Regions from separate parts of the Homo sapiens genome. Here region 1 is linked to region 2. Evidence: fine-mapped expression QTL. A gene starts in region 2. The other region holds a variant in brackets. All regions are shown on one strand. Distances are from middle to middle. Region 1 overlaps TFRC (transferrin receptor). Region 2 holds the start of TFRC (transferrin receptor).

Region 1 (11,255 bases), 31 kb after region 2:
GCCATGATTGCATCACCACGCTCCAGCCTGGGTGACAGAGTGACCTCGTCTCAAGGCTGCAGGGAGCCATGATTGCATCACTGCACTCCAGCCTGGGTGACAGAGAGAGGCCTCGTCTCAAGGCTGCGGGGAGCTGTGATTGCATCACTGCACTCTAGCCTGGGTGACAGAGTGACCTCGTCTCAAGGCTAGAGGGAGCCATGATTGCATCACTGCACTCCAGCCTGGGTGACAGAGAGAGACCTCGTCTCAAGGCTGCAGGGAGTCATGATTGCATCGCTGCACTCTAGCCTGGGTGACAGAGACCTTGTCTCAAGGCTGCGGGGAGTCATGATTGCATTGCTGCACTCTAGCCTGGGTGACAGAGAGACCTTGTCTCAAGGCTGTGGGGAGTCGTGATTGCATCACTGCACTCTAGCCTGGGTGACAGAGAGACCTCGTCTCAAGGTATGTTTCATGTATCTTCTCTTTTTTCATTGATAAAGGCCCAAACTTCCCAGAGAGAAAAACATACAGCCTTAAGGAATTTGGCTAGAAGTCTATTCAGGGCATATGATACGATAGAACAGGGATTCTGTAGAACCTGGAAGAAAGTAGTCACTCTAGGAGTAGGTTAGCTTGAGAGAAGTAGCAAGAATGTACTTAAAGCAGCAGATAATGAGATAGAATTGGGGTAAATTGCGGTAGGAATATGTTAGAAGCAAGGGTGGAACTGTCGTCACTGTTACCTCGATGGCGAAGCCAGAATGTGAGGCTCTTGCTCTTAGAACTCACGTGAGTACCATAGCCTCGCGTTGTCTTGCAGGACACAGATTATCCTTATTTGGGTACCACCATGGACACCTATAAGGAACTGATTGAGAGGATTCCTGAGTTGAACAAAGTGGCACGAGCAGCTGCAGAGGTCGCTGGTCAGTTCGTGATTAAACTAACCCATGATGTTGAATTGAACCTGGACTATGAGAGGTACAACAGCCAACTGCTTTCATTTGTGAGGGATCTGAACCAATACAGAGCAGACATAAAGGTGAGCACTGATTCCAATTACGTTTTTATTTTGCTGAATGTCAAGTATTTTGAAATGTGATGTGTTCCTGTGTGTTCCTGTTGGAAGGGTGATTGTAGCCATAGTACATTTTAAAGTGAACTGAGGTATAATTGTATGTAGAATTGGTAACTTGTTTGAGAGAAGTCGGGAGGCTGTGGATTAGAGACCTAGGACAGAGCTCAGCAGGTGTTTCAGAATCCAGAGCAGTGTCAGGTTTTCTGTCACTCATGTCTCCCAGGCAGCCCGTCAGTAGGACACGGAATATGAAGATCTCAGCAAGGAGTTGGGCTGTGTGCCTCTCGGGCGTGACCCGGATGGAAAGACAGCACAGCTAGCAGGATTCCATCTCGTAGTGATCTGCGCATCTAAAAGTCAAATATTCTATTAAACGAAACTGATAAGCAGGGTGAGGTGGTGCATACCCGTAGCCCCAGCTACTTCTGCTGAGGCAGGAGGATTGCTGGAGTCCAGCCCAGGCAACATAGCAAAATCCCATCTCTAAATAAATTAATAAAACTAATATTAAAGTAGCTTCCAGATTGTTTTATGGTACTAGGAGTTGATTTTTAACAGATCTCTTAATTGAAGTAAATCACTGACAACCGAATCTTTTTATATCTTTTTTATTTTTATTTTTATTTTATTTTTTTTGAGAGATGAAGTCTCGCTCTTGTCCCCCAGGCTGGAATGCAATGACATGATCTCGGCTCACTGCAACCTCCACCTCCCGGCTTTAAGCGATTCTCCTGCCTCGGCTCCCCAGGTAGCTGGGATTACAGGCGTGTGCCACCATGCCCAGATAGTTTTTGTGTTTTTAGTAGAAGCCGGGGTTTTACCATGTTGGCCAGGCTGAAGTGCAGTGGCGAGATCTCGGCTCACTGTAAGATGCGCCTCCCGGGTTCACGCCATTCTCCTGCCTAAGCCTCCCGAGTAGCTGGGACTACAGGTGCCGGCCACCACGCCCGGCTAATTTTTTGTATTTTTAGTAGAGCCGGGGTTTTACCATGTTGGCCAGGCTGGTCTTGAACTCCTGACCTCAGGTGATCCACCCACCTCGGCCTCCCAAAGTGCTGGGATCACAGGCATGAGCCACCACGCCCGGCATCTTATGTCTTTCTTGAAACTAATTGTAACTGTTGAAAATGGAACTTACCAGGTGGAAATAACTAAATCCTGAAGTACCTTGAACCAAAATGTTTTCCCCTATAGGGACATTTTCCCCCAAAAGGAGAATTGAACTGGAAACAATATAGTACATAGGATTATATAATTATGTTCAATTTCTTAATGAGAATGGTTTTCTTACATGCTGGGCTCAAATATGAGTGTATATCACAGTCCATAGAGCTTGGAACCCCTGTGCAAGGTGCTTTCGGAGTCTTGAGCTTATCTGCGAGTTCCTTTTATCAGAATCTTACTTAACGCACGTTAAATTAGAAAGGCATACAAAAGAATGTCCTTAGAAATAAAACTTCTCATAGCGAATAATGTCTGTTTCAGGAAATGGGCCTGAGTTTACAGTGGCTGTATTCTGCTCGTGGAGACTTCTTCCGTGCTACTTCCAGACTAACAACAGATTTCGGGAATGCTGAGAAAACAGACAGATTTGTCATGAAGAAACTCAATGATCGTGTCATGAGAGTAAGTGAACTTTTGGGAAAGGAGGAACTAAAGTATGTGTAAAATAACCGATAAATCTTACACTTCTGCAAAGTGGACAAACTCTAGGAGTCTAGAATTCCTTTAAGAAGGGAGCATTAATGGTTTAGCTGTCATTTTCTGTTTCTGCTGTCTAATTCAGAACTTAGTCAAACCTAGTCTTTTTGGAAGAGACTTGCTGTAAAACTTCCATGTATGCTCCAATGGGGAAAAGAATCTGAACACATTTAAAGTTTTCCTTTGTAAAATGAATCAGTTTCCTTTAAAAAAATTTTTTTTTTTTTTGAGACAGAGTTTCACTGTTGTTGCCCAAGCTGGAGTGCAATGGCACGGTCTCGGCTCACTGCACCCTCCACCTCCCAGGTTCAAGTGATTCTCCTGCCTTAGCCTCCCGAGTTGCTGTGATTACAGGTGCCCAACACCACGCCCGGCTCATTTTTTGTATTTTTAGTAGAAACGGAGTTTCACCATGTTAGCCAGGCCGGTCTCGAACTCCCAACCTCAAGTGATCCACCTGCCTTGGCCTCCCAAAGTGCTGGTATTACAAGCGTGAGCCGCTGTGCCTAGCCTCCTTTAGAATTTTAACCTTAGAAGATTAGCATTAGCCTGGTTCTCAGCATTCTTTTTTCCTTACTCTGCTATAGAAAGTCTGATCAGCTGGCTGGGTACAGTGGCTCATGCCTGTAATTCCAGTACTTTGGGAGGCCGAGGCAAGCGGATCACCTGAGGTCAGGAGTTCAAGACCAGCCTGACCAACATGGAGAAACCCCATCTCTACTAAAAATACAAAAATTAGCTGGGCGTGGTGGTGCATGCCTGTAATTCCAGCTGCTCAGGAGGCTGAGGCAGGAGAATTACTTGAACCCGGGAGGTGGAGGTTGCAGTGAGCTGAGATCGCGCCATTGTACTCCAGCCTGGGCAACAAGAGCGAAACTCTGTCTCAACAACAACAAAAAGCCGGGCACGGTGGCTCACACCTGTAATCCCAGCATGAATTGCTTGAACTCGGGAGGTGGAGGGTACCAGTGAGCCGAGATAGCGCTGTTGCACTCCAGTCTGGGCAACAAGAGCGAAACTCTGTGTCAAAAAAAAAAAAAAAAAAAAAAAGTCTGATCGGCATTCTTAAATTTGGGACATTTTACATTTGAAGTGAACTGTTGTTTTACTACAAAAGTCACAGGGCTGTGTAAATTGCCTTGTGTGTTGTTTTCGTAGGTGGAGTATCACTTCCTCTCTCCCTACGTATCTCCAAAAGAGTCTCCTTTCCGACATGTCTTCTGGGGCTCCGGCTCTCACACGCTGCCAGCTTTACTGGAGAACTTGAAACTGCGTAAACAAAATAACGGTGCTTTTAATGAAACGCTGTTCAGAAACCAGTTGGCTCTAGCTACTTGGACTATTCAGGGAGCTGCAAATGCCCTCTCTGGTGACGTTTGGGACATTGACAATGAGTTTTAAATGTGATACCCATAGCTTCCATGAGAACAGCAGGGTAGTCTGGTTTCTAGACTTGTGCTGATCGTGCTAAATTTTCAGTAGGGCTACAAAACCTGATGTTAAAATTCCATCCCATCATCTTGGTACTACTAGATGTCTTTAGGCAGCAGCTTTTAATACAGGGTAGATAACCTGTACTTCAAGTTAAAGTGAATAACCACTTAAAAAATGTCCATGATGGAATATTCCCCTATCTCTAGAATTTTAAGTGCTTTGTAATGGGAACTGCCTCTTTCCTGTTGTTGTTAATGAAAATGTCAGAAACCAGTTATGTGAATGATCTCTCTGAATCCTAAGGGCTGGTCTCTGCTGAAGGTTGTAAGTGGTCGCTTACTTTGAGTGATCCTCCAACTTCATTTGATGCTAAATAGGAGATACCAGGTTGAAAGACCTTCTCCAAATGAGATCTAAGCCTTTCCATAAGGAATGTAGCTGGTTTCCTCATTCCTGAAAGAAACAGTTAACTTTCAGAAGAGATGGGCTTGTTTTCTTGCCAATGAGGTCTGAAATGGAGGTCCTTCTGCTGGATAAAATGAGGTTCAACTGTTGATTGCAGGAATAAGGCCTTAATATGTTAACCTCAGTGTCATTTATGAAAAGAGGGGACCAGAAGCCAAAGACTTAGTATATTTTCTTTTCCTCTGTCCCTTCCCCCATAAGCCTCCATTTAGTTCTTTGTTATTTTTGTTTCTTCCAAAGCACATTGAAAGAGAACCAGTTTCAGGTGTTTAGTTGCAGACTCAGTTTGTCAGACTTTAAAGAATAATATGCTGCCAAATTTTGGCCAAAGTGTTAATCTTAGGGGAGAGCTTTCTGTCCTTTTGGCACTGAGATATTTATTGTTTATTTATCAGTGACAGAGTTCACTATAAATGGTGTTTTTTTAATAGAATATAATTATCGGAAGCAGTGCCTTCCATAATTATGACAGTTATACTGTCGGTTTTTTTTAAATAAAAGCAGCATCTGCTAATAAAACCCAACAGATACTGGAAGTTTTGCATTTATGGTCAACACTTAAGGGTTTTAGAAAACAGCCGTCAGCCAAATGTAATTGAATAAAGTTGAAGCTAAGATTTAGAGATGAATTAAATTTAATTAGGGGTTGCTAAGAAGCGAGCACTGACCAGATAAGAATGCTGGTTTTCCTAAATGCAGTGAATTGTGACCAAGTTATAAATCAATGTCACTTAAAGGCTGTGGTAGTACTCCTGCAAAATTTTATAGCTCAGTTTATCCAAGGTGTAACTCTAATTCCCATTTTGCAAAATTTCCAGTACCTTTGTCACAATCCTAACACATTATCGGGAGCAGTGTCTTCCATAATGTATAAAGAACAAGGTAGTTTTTACCTACCACAGTGTCTGTATCGGAGACAGTGATCTCCATATGTTACACTAAGGGTGTAAGTAATTATCGGGAACAGTGTTTCCCATAATTTTCTTCATGCAATGACATCTTCAAAGCTTGAAGATCGTTAGTATCTAACATGTATCCCAACTCCTATAATTCCCTATCTTTTAGTTTTAGTTGCAGAAACATTTTGTGGTCATTAAGCATTGGGTGGGTAAATTCAACCACTGTAAAATGAAATTACTACAAAATTTGAAATTTAGCTTGGGTTTTTGTTACCTTTATGGTTTCTCCAGGTCCTCTACTTAATGAGATAGTAGCATACATTTATAATGTTTGCTATTGACAAGTCATTTTAACTTTATCACATTATTTGCATGTTACCTCCTATAAACTTAGTGCGGACAAGTTTTAATCCAGAATTGACCTTTTGACTTAAAGCAGAGGGACTTTGTATAGAAGGTTTGGGGGCTGTGGGGAAGGAGAGTCCCCTGAAGGTCTGACACGTCTGCCTACCCATTCGTGGTGATCAATTAAATGTAGGTATGAATAAGTTCGAAGCTCCGTGAGTGAACCATCATTATAAACGTGATGATCAGCTGTTTGTCATAGGGCAGTTGGAAACGGCCTCCTAGGGAAAAGTTCATAGGGTCTCTTCAGGTTCTTAGTGTCACTTACCTAGATTTACAGCCTCACTTGAATGTGTCACTACTCACAGTCTCTTTAATCTTCAGTTTTATCTTTAATCTCCTCTTTTATCTTGGACTGACATTTAGCGTAGCTAAGTGAAAAGGTCATAGCTGAGATTCCTGGTTCGGGTGTTACGCACACGTACTTAAATGAAAGCATGTGGCATGTTCATCGTATAACACAATATGAATACAGGGCATGCATTTTGCAGCAGTGAGTCTCTTCAGAAAACCCTTTTCTACAGTTAGGGTTGAGTTACTTCCTATCAAGCCAGTACGTGCTAACAGGCTCAATATTCCTGAATGAAATATCAGACTAGTGACAAGCTCCTGGTCTTGAGATGTCTTCTCGTTAAGGAGATGGGCCTTTTGGAGGTAAAGGATAAAATGAATGAGTTCTGTCATGATTCACTATTCTAGAACTTGCATGACCTTTACTGTGTTAGCTCTTTGAATGTTCTTGAAATTTTAGACTTTCTTTGTAAACAAATGATATGTCCTTATCATTGTATAAAAGCTGTTATGTGCAACAGTGTGGAGATTCCTTGTCTGATTTAATAAAATACTTAAACACTGAGTTGTCATTTCTTTAGATAAATTTTTTAAAAAGAGCAGTTTTAGGCTCATAGCAAAATTAAACAGAATTCCCACACATCCACTGTTTCTGCCACTTACACATCCTCCATGACGGTCAACAGCTTGCGCCAGAGCGGC[A/G]TATTTGTTACAATGGGCAGCCTACACGGGTGCACCATTAGCACCGTCAGCATCATTAGTCTACTGTTTACGTTAGGGTTTGTTCTACGGTTTTTGACAAATATGTAATATCATTCTAGTAGCTTACAGAATAGTTTTTATTGCTGTAAATCTTGTGCTCTGCCCATTCATCCATCTCTTCTATAAGGCCCTGGTAACCACAGATCTTACTATATCCATAATTTTACCTTTTCCAGACTGTCATACAGTTGGAATCAGAATATAGCCTTTTCAGATTGGCCTCTTTCACTAAGCAATAGCATTTGTTTCCTCCATGTCTTCATGACATGATACCTCATTTCTTTTTAGCACAGAACAATATTCTGTTGTCTGCAGTTACCATAGTTTATCTAGCTCACCTACTTACTAAGTAATCTTGCTTCTAAGTTTTGGCAGTTATGAATAAACTGATAAGCACCTGTGTGTATATCTTTTCTGTGAACATAGGTCTTCAGCTCTTTAGGTAAATACCAAGGTACATGATTGCTGCTGTCTTCTAAGTGGGCGATCTCAGCCCACTGCAGCCTCCGCCTCAGGCAGTTCTCCTACCTCAGCCTCCGAGTAGCTGGGATTACAGGTGTCTGCCACCACGCCTAGCTAATTTTCATATTTCTAGTAGACGTGGGGTTTCACCATGTTGGCCGGGCTAGTCTTGAACTCCTGATCTCAGGTGATCCGCCTGCCTCAGCCTCCCAAAGTGTTGGGATTACAGGCGTGAGCCACCATGCCCAGCCTCTATTGGCAATTTCTAAATATACAATATATTGTCACCATATACCACATATGTAATTTTATTTATTTTTGAGACAGAATCTTTGCTGTCGTCCAGGCTGGGGCGCAGTGGCGCTATCTCGGCTCCCCGCAACCCCCACCTCCTGGGTTCAAGTGATTCTCCTGCCTCAGCCTCCTGAGCAACTGGGATTACAAGTGTGGGCCACCACGCCTGGCTAATTTTTGTATTTTTAGTAGAGATGGGGTTTCACCATGTTGGCCAGGCTGATCTTGAACTCCTGACTTCAAGTGATCTGCCCACCTCAGCCTCCCAAAGTGTGTGATTACAGGTGTGAGCCACCACCACGCTCTGCCTCCTTTTTTTTTTTTTTCCCGAGACAGTCTCGCCCCATCGCCTAGGCTGGAGTGTAGTGGTGCCATCGCAGCTCACTGCAACCTCCACCTCCCAAGTTCAAGCAATTCTTGTGCCTCAGCCTCCTGAGAGGCTGGGATTACAGGTGTGCTCCATACCGTGTCTTCAAACTCCCTTGTACCTCAAGCAATGCACATCTCAGTTTTGGCTAGCCACATTTCAGGTGCTCAGTAGCCACATGGTTAGTGGACACCAGCTCTATAGCAAAAGGCGTAATTGTTGAGAGTTTTCTTATTTTGGCCTTCTACCGTGTGGTTACCAAAAAATCCATCACACAATTGAATCTCATTGCTATGAGTGCCAGCCAGGATTCTTAAGTATGGCCACGAAAATTGTGGCCCCTAGAATTGGAAGCCTAATTGCCTCACCTATGCCCCAGCTTTCCCGTGTCCAAATTAGCCACATTCATACCCTTGAGAAGCAAGATGATTATTAAACTGCTGTATTCTACGGGAGAAACTGCCTATGTGAAAGGTCATGGGTTAGGAAGCTGTCCTAAACAAATATTTGTAAAACACCTGGTTATCTGCAAGACAGCTTTGCCTAGAATTCAATATCAGATACCAATGTCTTCCTTGTGGCTGTCAACAGGTTTAGGTGCTGAGTTAAATAAAGCCTTTGCAGTTTGCTGCATTTGCCCTTTAAGCTGCCTCATGCTTAATCCACCCCAAATGGACAGCTTTGTATAATTTTCTTTTCTTTTCTTTTTTTTTTTTTTCTGAAATGGAGTCTCATTCTTGTTGCCCAGGCTGGAGTGCAATGGCGTGATCTCAGCTAACTGCAACCTCTGCCTTCCAGGTTCAAGCGATTCTCCTGCCTCAGCCTCCCCAGTAGCTGAGATTACAGGTGCATGCCACCATGCTCGGCTAATTTTTGTATTTTTAGTAGAGATGGGGTTTCGCCATGTTGGCCAGGCTGGTCTCGAACTCCTGACCTCAGGTGATCCGCCCGCCTTGGCTTCCCAAAGTGCTGGGATTAAAGGCGTGAGCCACCGCACCTGGCCAGCTTTGTATAATTTTTAATGCCTTTTTTGAAAATATTCACATACGGTCAAAGTGCAGAAAAGTCTGTATTAAAAAGTATTTTCCTCTTAGTCTCCAGAGTTGTCATCCCTCTAAATCTCCACAATTACCAATTTTTCTTTTTTTATTTTGAGATGGTCTCGCTCTTGTCACCCAGGCTGGATTGCAGTGGCATGATTTCAGCTTGCTGCAACCTCCGCCTCCTGGATTCCAGCTATCCTACCTAAGCCTCCTGAGAGTAGCTGGGACTACAGACAGGCAACACCATGCCCAGCTAAGCTAATTTTTGTATTTTTTGAGAGATGGGGTTTTGCCTTATTACCCAGGCTGGTCTCAAACTCCTGGACTGAAGTAATACACCTGCCTCAGCCTCCCAAAGTGCTGGGATTACAGGTGTGAGCCACTGGGCCTGGTCATTTACCGATTTCTTATGTACATTTTCAAAGTTGTCTGTGCATAAATGAGAATTCTATACCAGATCTTCCTAAAAGCATATATGGGGGCTCTGGTTCCACAGTCACCACATAAGCCTCCTACAACCTATCCCTCCTGCTGCTTACAGCCAGAAGCTCAGTAAGACGGGGGGAAAACTCTCCCAAACCTGAGATGTAAACAAAGGTAGGCAAACAGTGGAGGGGAGTAAAACTTGGAGAAGTGACCTCAAAAGGGAAAGAATTGGCAGGAACCAAAAGAGGAACAAACAAAAAAACTGGTGAAGTGGCATGCTGAGTCCAGCCATATCAATAATTACATTATTGACATGTTAACATTCTAATCAAGACTGATGATTAAAAAACAATCAAGGCCCATTTATATGCTGCCTATAAGAAACTTTAAAGACAGATGAATTGAAAGGGGAAAAAATACAATATGTACACTAGCATACTATGACTGGAATGGTTATATAAATATAAGATTAAATAGACTTTGAACAGATAGTACCGTAAAGATAGGAATATTTTATAATTGTAAAGAGAGCCATTCAGGAAGATAGCAGACTTATAAATACGTATGCACCTTAAAATACATGAAAAAGAAATGAAAATTCTGCCATTAAAATAGATTTTAACACCCATTTCTTAGCAGTAAATAGAGAAGCTAGACCAAAAAAATCAGGACAAATTATTTGAACCACTGTATCAGCCACCTCAATCTACTTGACATTTGTAGAACACCACATTCAACAACTGCAAAATATACTTTTTTTAGGTATATGTGGTATATTCAGCAAGATAGACCATATACTGGGTGATACGGTTTGGATTTGTGTCCCTGCCCAAATCTTAGGTCAAATCGTAATCCCCAGTGTTGGAGGAGGGGGCCTGGTGGGAGGTGGTTGGATCACGGGGGCGGAATGCCCCCTTGCTGCTGTCATGGTAGATCCCACGAGATCGGGTAGTTTGAGAGTGCGCAGCGCCTTTGCTGTCTTCCTCCTTCTCCAGCCGTGTGGGATGCGCCTGCTTCCCCTCTGCCTTCTGCCATGATGGCGCAGTCCCTGAGGCCTCCCCAGTCATGCTTCCCGTGTAGCCGGCGGAACCATGAGCCAATTAAACCTCTTTTCTTTATGAATTACCCAGTCTCAGGTAGTTCTTTAAAGCAATGTGAGAATGGACTAATACATTGGGTGGTAAAACAAGTCTCAATTTTTTTTTGTTTTGTTTTTGACTTGGAGTTTTGCTCTTGTTGAAGATTATGTAGCTCGTTTCGGGAAGCTTCTATCTTCTTACGATCTGCAGCATCTATCCTGTAAACAATAGCCTTGACTCGTCGCTGTCACACGGGCTGGAGTGACGTGGCGCGATCTCGGCTCACTGCAGGCTCCGCCTCCCGGGTTCAAGCGATTCTTCTCCCTCAGCCTCCGAGTAGCTGGGATTACAGGCACCCGCTACCACGCCCGGCTAATTTTTTGTATTTTTAGTAGAGATGGGGCTTTCACCGTGTTGCCCAGGCTGGTCTCGAACTCCTGACCTCAGGCGATCCACCCGCCTCGGCCTCCCAAAGTGCTGGGATTACAAGCGTGAGCCACCGCCCGGCCGGTCCTGGATCTTTATTGTGACATGACCTTTAGTTACTTTCCTCGTGTTGAAACC
Region 2 (10,768 bases):
TTTATTTCACTGGTAAATGAATGAAGGCAATAAAGGGATATTATTTCCACATGGCAGACAGGGAAAATGAAGTACAGAGCCATGACTGACGCCCATGTTTCCGCAGCACAGTGGGTGACAGTCCCACTGGGACAAGTTGCTAATTTCTAGGCGGGGGCTTTTTATTTTATTTTTGAGGCGGACTCACTTTGTCACCCAGACTGGAGTGCAGTGGCCCAGCCTCAGCTTACTGCAACCTCCGCCTCCCAGGTTCAAACGATTCTCCTGCCTCAGCCTCCTAAGTAGCTGAGATTATGGGCACACAAAACCACGCCTGGCTAATTTTTGTATTTTTAGTAGAGACAGTGTCTTGTCATGTTGGCCAGGCTGGTCTCGAACTCCTGACCTCAAGTGATCCTCCTGCCTCTGCCTCCCAAAGTGCTGGGATTACAGGCGTGAGCCTCCATGCCCTGCCAGCTGGGGCTCTTTCACTAGGTAAGTGGCTTATCTGGTTTGCTTTTCCTGCCAGTTCTCTCTCACCAAAAAGCAAGACTTCTGCTTTCATCTCTTGGTGAAGAAAAAAGAGAGGGAGGCAGAATTTTGCCGTTAATCATCCTGCACTGTTGTTTCCAGCAGTAATTCCCCTGAATTAGCTGTCAGACATCTCCTTAGGAATTTTAACACACACCACAGGCTCCTTCTCACTACAGAGCCTTCAGGTGGCCGGTTCTCCTCTGCTGAAATGCCTTCATCCTTCCTCTTCATGAGCCCACATCCATCCCAGTCTGCAGACATCTTCCACGTCACGTTCCTACCTGACCCCACTCCGCCCCACGAGGACTCTGATTCAACCATGCTGACCAACAGTGTATGATGTGCCAGTCATTGCTTTTAGGGTCTTCTAGACCCTAAAAGAGGTATTTTTGGAATGAGGTATTTTTATTCCCATTTTATTTTTTGAGAAGGAGTCTTGCTGTGTCTCTCAGCCTGGAGTGCAGTGGCACAATCTCAGCTCACTGCACCCTCTGCCTCCCGGGTTCAAGCGATTCTCCTGCCTCAGCCTACTGAGTAGCTGGGATTACAGGTGCCTGCCACCACACCCGGCTAATTTTCGTATTTTCAGTAGAGATGGGGTTTCACCACATTGGTTAGGCTGGTCTCGAACTCTTGACCTCAAATGATACGCCCGCCTCAGCCTCCCAAAGTGCTGAGATTAGACGTGTGAGCCACCGTGCCCAGCCTTTATTCCCATTTTAGAGCTGGTACAACCCAGGCTCAGGAAAGTTGAGAACTCCAGCTTCTTGGCCCTCCAGGCTTTGTGCTCTTTTCTTTTCCCCACAGCTCATGGTATCTTTTTCCTTGCCAACCTCCTTCCCTTTATGAAACTTCTCGTATTTCTGTGTACGATGCAGAAGAACTGCAAGAGTTTTAGTTCCAGGATGAGGTAAGCCTCATGGAATAGTTTGTGGAGGGTTGGAAATTAAATAATTTCCAATAATAATTTCGAATAATTTGGCCAGGCTCGGTGGCTCACGCCTGTAATCCCAGCACTTTGGGAGGCCAAGGCAGGCAGATCATGAGGGCAGGAGTTCACGACCAGCCTGGCCAACATGGAGAAACCCCGTCTCTATTAAAAATACAAAAAATTAGCCATGCGTGGTGGCACGTGCCTGTAATCCCAGCTACTCGGGAGGCTGAGGCAGGAGAATCGCTTGAACCCAGGTGGAGGTTGCATTGAGCCGAGATGGCGCCACTGCACTCCAGCCTGGGTGACAGAGTAAGACTGTTTAAAAATAAATAAATAAATAGTAAAAGTGTTAATAAGTGGACTTTAATTGCAGTGTCTATTAATACTAATAACAGCATAAAAATAAAAATATAATTGATAGCCTCTTTAGTGTCACGTTTATGGTTTTATTTTAGTGAATATAAATTTTTGAGATTTGAATTTTCATGTCCAAATGGTCCTGGCCTCTAAATGTCTCCTAAACATATTTTTCTTTCTTTTCTTTTCTTTCTTTCTTTCTTTTTTTTTTTTTTTTTTGAGACAGAGTCTTGCTCTGCTGCCCAGGCTGAAGGGCAGTGGTGTGATCTCAGCTCACTGCAGCCACCCCCCTCCCGGGTTCAAACGATTCTCCTGCCTCAGCCTCTGGAGTAGCTGGGACTACAGGTGTGCGCCACCACGCCAGACTAAATTTTGTATTTTTAGTTGTGATGGGGTTTTATCATGCTGGCCAGGCTGGTCTTGAACTCCTGACCTCAGAAGATCCACCTGCCTCAGTCTCCCAAAGTGTTGGGATTACAGGGATTAGCCATCGCATCTGGCCACCTAAACCTATGTCCTCCATGAGGCTATAAGATTTTCACCTGCAAATACCAGCATTGTTTGTTTCTTTTTAAAAGATACTTCAGTCAAGGAAAGGCAGAAAGCCAGGCATGTTAGCTCATGCCTATAATCCCAGCACTTTGGGAGACCGGAGGCAGGAGGATTGTTTGAGCCCAGGAGTTCAAGACTAGTCTGGGCTACATAGCAAACCCTGCGTCAAATTAAAAATAAAAAATAAATAGGCTGGGCATGGTGGCTCATGCCTGTTATCCCAACATTTTAGGAGGCCAAGGTGGGCAGATCACCTGAGGTCAGGAATTCGAGACAAGCCTGGCCAACATGATAAAATCCCGTCACTCCTCAAAATACAAAAATTAGCCTGGCATGGTGGCACACACCTGTAGTCCCAGCTACTTGGGAGGCTGAGGCAGGAGAATCGCTTGAATCCGGAGGCAGAGGTTGCAGTGAGCCCGAGATCATGCCACTGTACTCCAGCCAGGGTGACAGAGCAAGACACTGTCTTAAAAGTAAAAATAATAAAAATAAATAAAATTAATAATTAAAGAAATAAAGAAGGAACACCACAGGGGAGCAGGCCTGGTGTCTGAATGTTAAGGTAGGCCCTCTGTGGATGTGCATCCTTAACCTTTTCCTGATTAGATCATTAAAGGTGCAGCAATGCTCCTGCTCATATGACTTTTTTTTTTTTTTGAGATGGAATCTTGCTCTGTCGCCCAGGTTGGAGTGCAATGGCGCGATCTTGGCTCACTGCAACCTCCGCCTCTTGGGTTCAAGCGATTCTTCTGCCTCAGCCTCCTGAGTAGCTGGGATTACAGGCGCGTGCCACTATGCCTGGCTAATTTTTTTTGAAATTTTTTTAGTAGAGATGGGGTTTCACCATATTGGTCAGGCTGGTCTCGAACTCCAGACCTCGTGATCCGCTCACCTCGGCCTCCCAAAGTGTTAGGATTGCAGGCGTGAGCCACCGCGCCTGGCAACTCATATGACTTTTAAACACTTCTCTTTGGGGAGAGAGATTTTAGAGAATGGGAGTAAAGAGAAAGGCGGTGAGAATCCCAAGTACTTTCTCTATCTTAGAGCAGAAGAAATAAAGGGAAGAGTAAAAGCCCAAGGCCCAGAAACGGATTTGCTTCTTAAAGGGCTGTTCTGTGTCCCTACGGGCCTGAAGGTCAGTTTATGTGCAATGCTTTTTAAGGTATGGGTTGCTTTCTTGCATTGTAGCTACTACCTCCCTGGCCTGCTGGTTACTGACCAGAGGGAGGGAGAGGGTGTGATTGTTTGGAAAGAGTTTAAACAGTGACAAGAATTGAATTTTATTTATTTGTTATTCATTGCACAATCCAATAACAGCGATGGCAATGAAAACGAAAGTTAATCTACAATCCTATCACCCTATTAAGTCACTTGTTTCTATTTTCCCTTTTATTCCCTCATGCATTAAACATTACGCAAAGCACTCCGCTAGTCTTGGTTAAAGTGCAGCTTGTATACATTCTGAATAAAAATTTGCATTTTGCTTTTCTTTTCCTTTTTGTATTTCTGAGGCTGCAAAATACATCTTCACAAGAGTGGCTTTAATAGTTACCTAACATTCCATCCTGCACGTACATTTCAAGGCACTGCCGCAGTGCAATATCCAACATTTAAGCGTCAACGCCAACAGATTGGACCTAGCACTGCAGGGACTGGAGGTTGGTCAAGGTCAGGCGGAGGCTGCCAGGCTACCAGGGTGGAGGAAGGCGCCGAGGCAGAGGCCAGTGCGCCCATCGCGCGGCTCCTCGGGGCACCTGCTGCCTTGGCGCCTTTTCCCTTGGCCTTCGCCTCGCCCGCAGCGCCCTCCGCATAGGGCCCCGCCCGCTGCGCGCGCATCCCCGCCCCCCGGGCGATCTGTCAGAGCACCTCGCGAGCGTACGTGCCTCAGGAAGTGACGCACAGCCCCCCTGGGGGCCGGGGGCGGGGCCAGGCTATAAACCGCCGGTTAGGGGCCGCCATCCCCTCAGAGCGTCGGGATATCGGGTGGCGGCTCGGGACGGAGGACGCGCTAGTGTGAGTGCGGGCTTCTAGAACTACACCGACCCTCGTGTCCTCCCTTCATCCTGCGGGGCTGGCTGGAGCGGCCGCTCCGGTGCTGTCCAGCAGCCATAGGGAGCCGCACGGGGAGCGGGAAAGCGGTCGCGGCCCCAGGCGGGGCGGCCGGGATGGAGCGGGGCCGCGAGCCTGTGGGGAAGGGGCTGTGGCGGCGCCTCGAGCGGCTGCAGGTACACGGGGTCGGCGGCTGTGCGCAGAGGCGTCCCTGCGCCTCTCGTCCCTTCGCCTCTCGTCCCTTCCCTTCTCTCTGCCTTCTTGCCCGCCTCCTCGGTCACAGAGCGACGAATGACGAGACCAGGTGTACCCCCACTGTCGCTCTCAGCCCCGGGGACTTCGGGTCCTCGCCCTTGAAGGCCGCAGGCCCTAGTGCGCCGGCTCCGGGCTGCGGGTCCGGGAGCGCGGGCGCAGCCAAGGTGCAGCTGCGCGGCGTGCGGCGCCGGGGGAACACGTGGCTGCTCCAGGAAGTCGCCCCAGGGAACGGCTGGGATTCGTGGGTGACCTTGGGCTCCTAAACCTTCGGTTCCCCGGGCTCCGGGCGGGCCCCGTTCTCACTGCGGAAAGGGACAAAGCTGTCCCCGATTCGGTTACTAGCGTGTTACAGGCATTAATTAGATACGGGTTTCTGTAAACTTACCCTTCGGCTCTGGTACAACCTGATCTTGCCATGCTCTGCCTGTTCGCCTTGTGTGTGGATTCTGTTTTCTCAAGGCAGAATCCGACTGAACGCCGCAGGTGTTCACATTAAGAATATTGCTAGCAGTTCTCACTACAAGACGGGAGCCATAGGAGTGACTTATTTGTGAAAGATACTTGGAGATTAGCGGTGTGGTCAGAGGGCTGTGCTGGATTGATGGGCGCCGGAGAGGCCGATTGTGTCACATTCTGCTGGACAGTTCTTTTAAGGTTGGGAGGGTGGGTAAGAAAATACATTCTGATTCGGCTCTTTTCGGATAACGCTTTCCCTCTGCTTACTGCTTGTAGAGACCTCACTTACCCGGGGGACTGGATTCTGCAGCTTTTTCCATTTTCTTCCCCGTTGATAAGAGGATTAAAGTAGGAAATTGTATTTGGCTACCCCATGCTTATATGCTAAGCTTACTGTGAAAATTAAGGTTAGGCTGTCTAGAGTACTTGTGGACCCTGCTGGTTCCCCCCGCCCCCCGGCCCTGAATTTTGGGTTACAATATGCTTCTCAAGAAAACTCAGAGTTAAGATAATTTTTGTCATCGATTTTGCAAGGTTATATATAGCATAGCATCCTTCAATTTCCTTTGGATGTTCTTATCAAGTAATGGTGGCTGTAAACCTAGCCTGTGTTGAAGATTGTTAGATAGACAGCAGTTTGGCTAACTCCGCCCTAAGGCGAGGCAGTTACTTGCCTCTGATAATGTATTTAAATGTCATGGAGCAAGATTCCCAGCTAAACCTGAATCGATCACAATGCTAGTTAAAAATGACCCTCGGCTGGGCGCATTGGCTCCCGCCTGTAATCCCAGCACTTTGGGAGGCCAAGGCAGGCGGATCACCTAAGGTCAGGAGTTCGAGTCCAGTCTGACTAACATGGTGAAATCCTGTCTCTACTAAAAACACAAAAATTAGCCGGGCATGGTGGCTCACGTCTGTAATTCCAGCACTTTGGGAGGCCGAGGCAGGTGGATCACTTGTGGTGAGGAGTTCGAGACTAGCCTGGCCAACATGGTGAAACCCCGTCTCTACGAAAAATACAAAAATTAGCTGGGCATGGTGGTGCACACCTGTAATCCCAGCCACTCAGGAGGCTGAGGCTCGAGAGTCGCTTTAACCTGGGAGGCAGAGGTTGTAGTGAGCTGAGATCGTGCTACTGCACTCCAGCCTGCGCGACAGCGAGATGCCATCTCAAAAACAACAACAAAAAAACTCCCTACTAAACCAGAAGAGTGATGGGGACGGGAAAAGATTCCTGGTCCAATGTTTTCATTATATTTTTCATATCATTTGGAATCTCATGCATCAGGCATGCCCCAGTACTGTTAAAGACAATATTTTTACTCATTATCAGGTAGTTCAATACCAGTTATTACAGGATAGGGAAGTCAGTCAGAGAAGGCTTCATAGAGATGAAGCCTTGAGCTGAGCCTGGAAGAAATGAGGAGGACCTCAAGGAACAGAGAAGAATGTTGGTGGGTAAAAACAGGGGCTGGATTCTGTCTGATTTTGGAGAAAATAGAGGGTAGTGAAGTTGTTAGGCAGTGAATGTGTTCCATTTCATGGTTCAAAACGTGGGGCTACGTTTTGCCTACCTGAGCTTCATTATTAATGTGAGAAATTGAATTGTTGTTTTCAGTCACCATTGAGAACACCAAAGATAACACAAGTAGCTTAGATTATTATTTATTTATTTATTTTTGACAGAGTTTCACGCTTGTTGCCCAGGCTGTAGTGCAATGGTGTGATCTCGGCTCCCTGCAACCTCCACCTCCCCCAGGTTCAAGTGATTCTCCTGCCTCAGCCTCCCCAGTAGCTGGGATTACAGGCATGCGCCACCATGCCCGGCTAATTTTGTATTTTTTTGGTAGAGATGGGATTTCTCCATGTTTGGTCAGGCTAGTCTCAAACTCTCAACCTCAGGTGATCTGCTCGCCTCGGCCTCCCAAAGTGTTGCTGGGATTACAGGCGTGAGCCACCATGCCCGGCCATCGCTTTGTGTTCTTAAAATTAATTTAAAACAAGAAAACTTGAGGAATGATGGTTCAGATGAGTGTTAAAACTTGCAAGATGTTTTTTCCTAGAAAAGGATGATTAAAATTGGTTCAGGGTGGGGCCTTCCAGTTCTGGCTCTAATGATTGGGTCCTTACTGTTCTGGTGGAGTGGTAGTGATAAGCTTTTTGTAACAGAAGGGGCAAAAGATTGTGCTTCTGGCTGGGCGCAGTGGCTCACGCCTTCGATTTCCTTGGGATGTTCTTATCAAGTAACTAATCTTAGCACTTTGGGAGGCCAGGTGGGTGGATCACCCTAGGTCAGAAGTTCCAGACCAGCCTGGCCAACGTGGTAAAATCCCGTCTCTACTAAAAATACAAAAATTAGCTGGGCATGGTGGTGGGCACCTGTAATCCCAGCTACTCGGAGTCTGAGGTGGGAAAATGGCTTGAACCCGGGAGGGGGAGGTTGCAGTGAGCCGAGATCCTGCCATTGCACTCCAGCCTAGGCAACAAGACCGAAACTCTGTCTCAAGAAAAAAAAAAAGATTATGCTTCTAAGAATATGGTCTATTGCATATGGACACTGGTTTTTAAAGCTTGAATTTAAAAAGAATTTTTTGTAATAGGTTTTAGAGCTTTTTCTTTTTCTTTTTTATTATTTTTTTGAGATGGAGTTTCACTCCGTCACCCAGGCTGGAGTGCAGTGGTGCCATCTCGGCTCACTGCAACCTCCACCTCCCGGGTTCAAGCGATTCTCCTGCCTCAGCCTCCCCAGTAGCTGGGATTACAGGTGCCCACCACCACGCCCATCTAATTTTTGTATTTTTAGTAGAGATGGGGTTTCACCACCTTGGCCAGGCTGGTCTCAAACTCCTGACCTCGTGATCCACCTGCCTCGGCCTCCCAAAGTGTTGGGATTACAGGCATGAGCCACCGTGCCTGGCCAGAAAGCTTTTTCTTAATGCCAGTTATAATACCCTTTGCTTTACAATTTGCGTATACCTCACAGCTTGCTTTGTGCCGTGTGTGTTTAATATGCCCTAAGTGTACTCGTATATAGGAAAAGCTTTAAAATGGTATCCAATAAATGTCCATTTTGCAAATCTCAGGATAATGTCATTTTCAAGTATCTAGATGCCCTCAAACCAAATTAACTGGAAAATTCAGATTTCAGTTAAGGCCTTTAACTTAACTTAGGACTTTGATTACAGAGATGTATTTTGCTTTGACAAAAGTTAAGGTTAATGTCTTAAATTTCCAGAGATGATAACACAATTTCTATAACCCAGTAACCCATTTAACTTCGCTTAGATTATCAATTTTCAGCCTTGAACAGGCCACTTAGTTTCTCTAATAACTGGCCTCTTCATCTGTAAAACAGCGTAATCTGTGTTTCATGTTTCTTCTTGTGTCAAAGATCGAATCACTTGTAGGAACTATTCATTCAGTCAGGATCAGTATTTCTTCCCCTTCCCATTGGAGATGGTTTGTGGTATTTGTAGCATAACTGGTCTTGTCTGCCTTAGTCTTAATTTTGTCTTTTTGTATGTGTCACTTTCTTTTTTTTTTGAGACAGAGTTTTGCTCTTGTTTTCCAGGCTGGAGTGCAGTGGCGCGATCTTGGCTCACTGCAAGCTCCACCTCCTGGGTTCACGCCATTCTCCTGCCTCAGGCTCCCGAGTGGCTGGGATTACAGGCGCCCACCACCACGTCCGGCTAATTTTTGTATTTTTAGTAGAGACAGGGTTTCTCCATGTTGGCCAGGCTGGTCTTGAACTCCTGACCTCAGGTGATCCACCCATCTCAGCCTCCCAAAGTGCTAGGATTACAGGTGTGAGCCACCCCGCCCAGCAGTATGTGTCACTTTTGTCTACTCAGAACATAGTGGTTCGTACTTATAATTGCAGCACTTTGGGAGGCCAAGGTGGGAGGATTGTTTGAGGCCAGGAGTTCAAGACCAGCCTGGGCAACATAGGGTGACCTTGTCTCTACAAAAAGAAAAAAAAAGAATTATGTATATAACAAACTTTAAAAAGGATCCCACTTAATTTAGTTGTCATGTAAACTATGGTTAAATACCTTTTCTAGAAAAGTGATAATGTATTTTAAAAATTTAATGTATCATTTAGCCTGGTAATAGAAAGCTCACTAATCTGATACAGTAGTATCTTTCTCAATAATTCTCTATTCTGATACCTAGGTTCTTCTGTGTGGCAGTTCAGAATGATGGATCAAGCTAGATCAGCATTCTCTAACTTGGTAAGATATTTTCAGTTGTATTTCTGTGTCTGCAAGAATGTGAAATATACAAGCATGACTTTAACTGAGTAAGCATGAAATAATAACCCCAATCTATTATCAGGTATTCATTTACATTTGAATTGGTAGTCTTGAGGCATAACTGATCTCACAAAGAGTTCAGCCTTCAGTAGGGTTAATTATGGAAAGTCTTGGAAGAATTCTCAGAGTGGTTCTGGGTGTGGTAGACGGGGACAGCTTAGTAGATAAGACGAATTAAAGCCCTGATCAAAATGTTTTAGTAGGAGAAGTAAAAAGCAAAGGCTTGCGGGGCGCTGTGGCTCACGCCTGTAATCCCAGCACTTTGGGAGGCTGAGGTGGGTGGATCACCTGTGGTCAGGAGTTCAAGACCAGCCTGACCAACATGGTGAAACTCGGTCTCTACTAAAAATACAAAAAAAAAAAAAATTAGCTGAGTGTCATGGCGCATGCCTGTAGTCCCAGCTACTTGGGAGGCTGAGGCAGGAGAATTGCTTGAACCCGGGAGGCGGAGGTTGCAATGAGCTGAGATCACGCCATTGCACTCCAGCCTGGGCAACAGAGTGAGACTCCGTCTCAAAAAAAAAAAAAAAAGCAAAGGCTGAATGAGGCCAAGTGTGGTGGCTCACTCCCGCAATCCCAGCAGTTTGGGAGGTGAGGCAGGAGGATCACTTGAGGAGTTTGAGACTTGCCTGGGCAACATAGCAAGCCCATCTCTATTAAAAAAAAAATGAAATTTTAAGAAACATTGAGTAGACAGTATGAGTGAAAGCTGAAAGAACATACAAAAAAAACAGCCATCCAGGCCATGACGAGAAGGAGCCTAACTCTTAACACTCTGTCTAGACCTCAATTCTCTCTTATTTGTATTTATTTATTTATTTATTTTTATTTTATTTTTTGAGATGGAGTCTCAGCCTGGGCTCTGTTGCCCAGGTTGGAATGCAGTGTGCAATCTTAGCTCACTGTAACCTCCGCCTCCTGAGTTCAAGCGATTCTCCTGCCTCAGCCTCCTGGGTGGCTGAGATTACAGGCGTGCGACACCATGCCCAGCTAGTGGTTTTTTTTTTTTTGAATTTTTAGTGAGAGGGGATTTCACCATGTTGGTCAGGCTTGTCTCAAACTTCTGACCATAAATGATCTGTGTGCCTCGGCCCCCCCCAGAGTGCTGGGATTACAGGCATGAGCCACTGTGTCTGGTCTATTCTCTCTTTTCTGTCTTCTATCTTATGCTTAGTCAGAATTTCTGCTTATTTATAACTTTGTTTTATTCTTGCTCCCTTGCTCCCACCAACATCATGGTCTGGGTTACTGCATAGTATCCTGAACTGATTTGTGCCCCTAGTCCCAGCTACTCAGGAGGCTGAGGTGGGGGAATCAGTAGAGCCCAGGATTTTGA

The links. PIP is the estimated chance that this variant, and not a neighbour inherited with it, causes the effect.
Region 1: its variant is fine-mapped to the expression of TFRC in blood mononuclear cells (TOPMed, PIP above 0.99).

The regions. Positions count from the first base shown.
Region 1 is chr3:196,044,852-196,056,106 of GRCh38, reverse strand. TFRC (transferrin receptor) reads left to right here. Exons shown (of 19, transcript NM_001128148.3): 17 at 806-1,027; 18 at 2,549-2,689; 19 at 3,923-6,823. The coding sequence ends at 4,165. It also overlaps the pseudogene ARL8BP1. Among named protein-coding and RNA genes, the nearest start is that of TFRC, 32 kb to the left of the region's middle. RefSeq lists an enhancer at 77-602. The variant A/G (reference allele first, on the strand shown) is at 6,961.
Region 2 is chr3:196,075,647-196,086,414 of GRCh38, reverse strand. It overlaps TFRC (transferrin receptor), which reads left to right and starts at 4,325. Exons shown (of 19, transcript NM_001128148.3): 1 at 4,325-4,372; 2 at 9,293-9,351. The coding sequence starts at 9,316. RefSeq lists silencers at 768-940, 4,003-4,342, 4,393-4,692 and an enhancer at 5,574-6,073.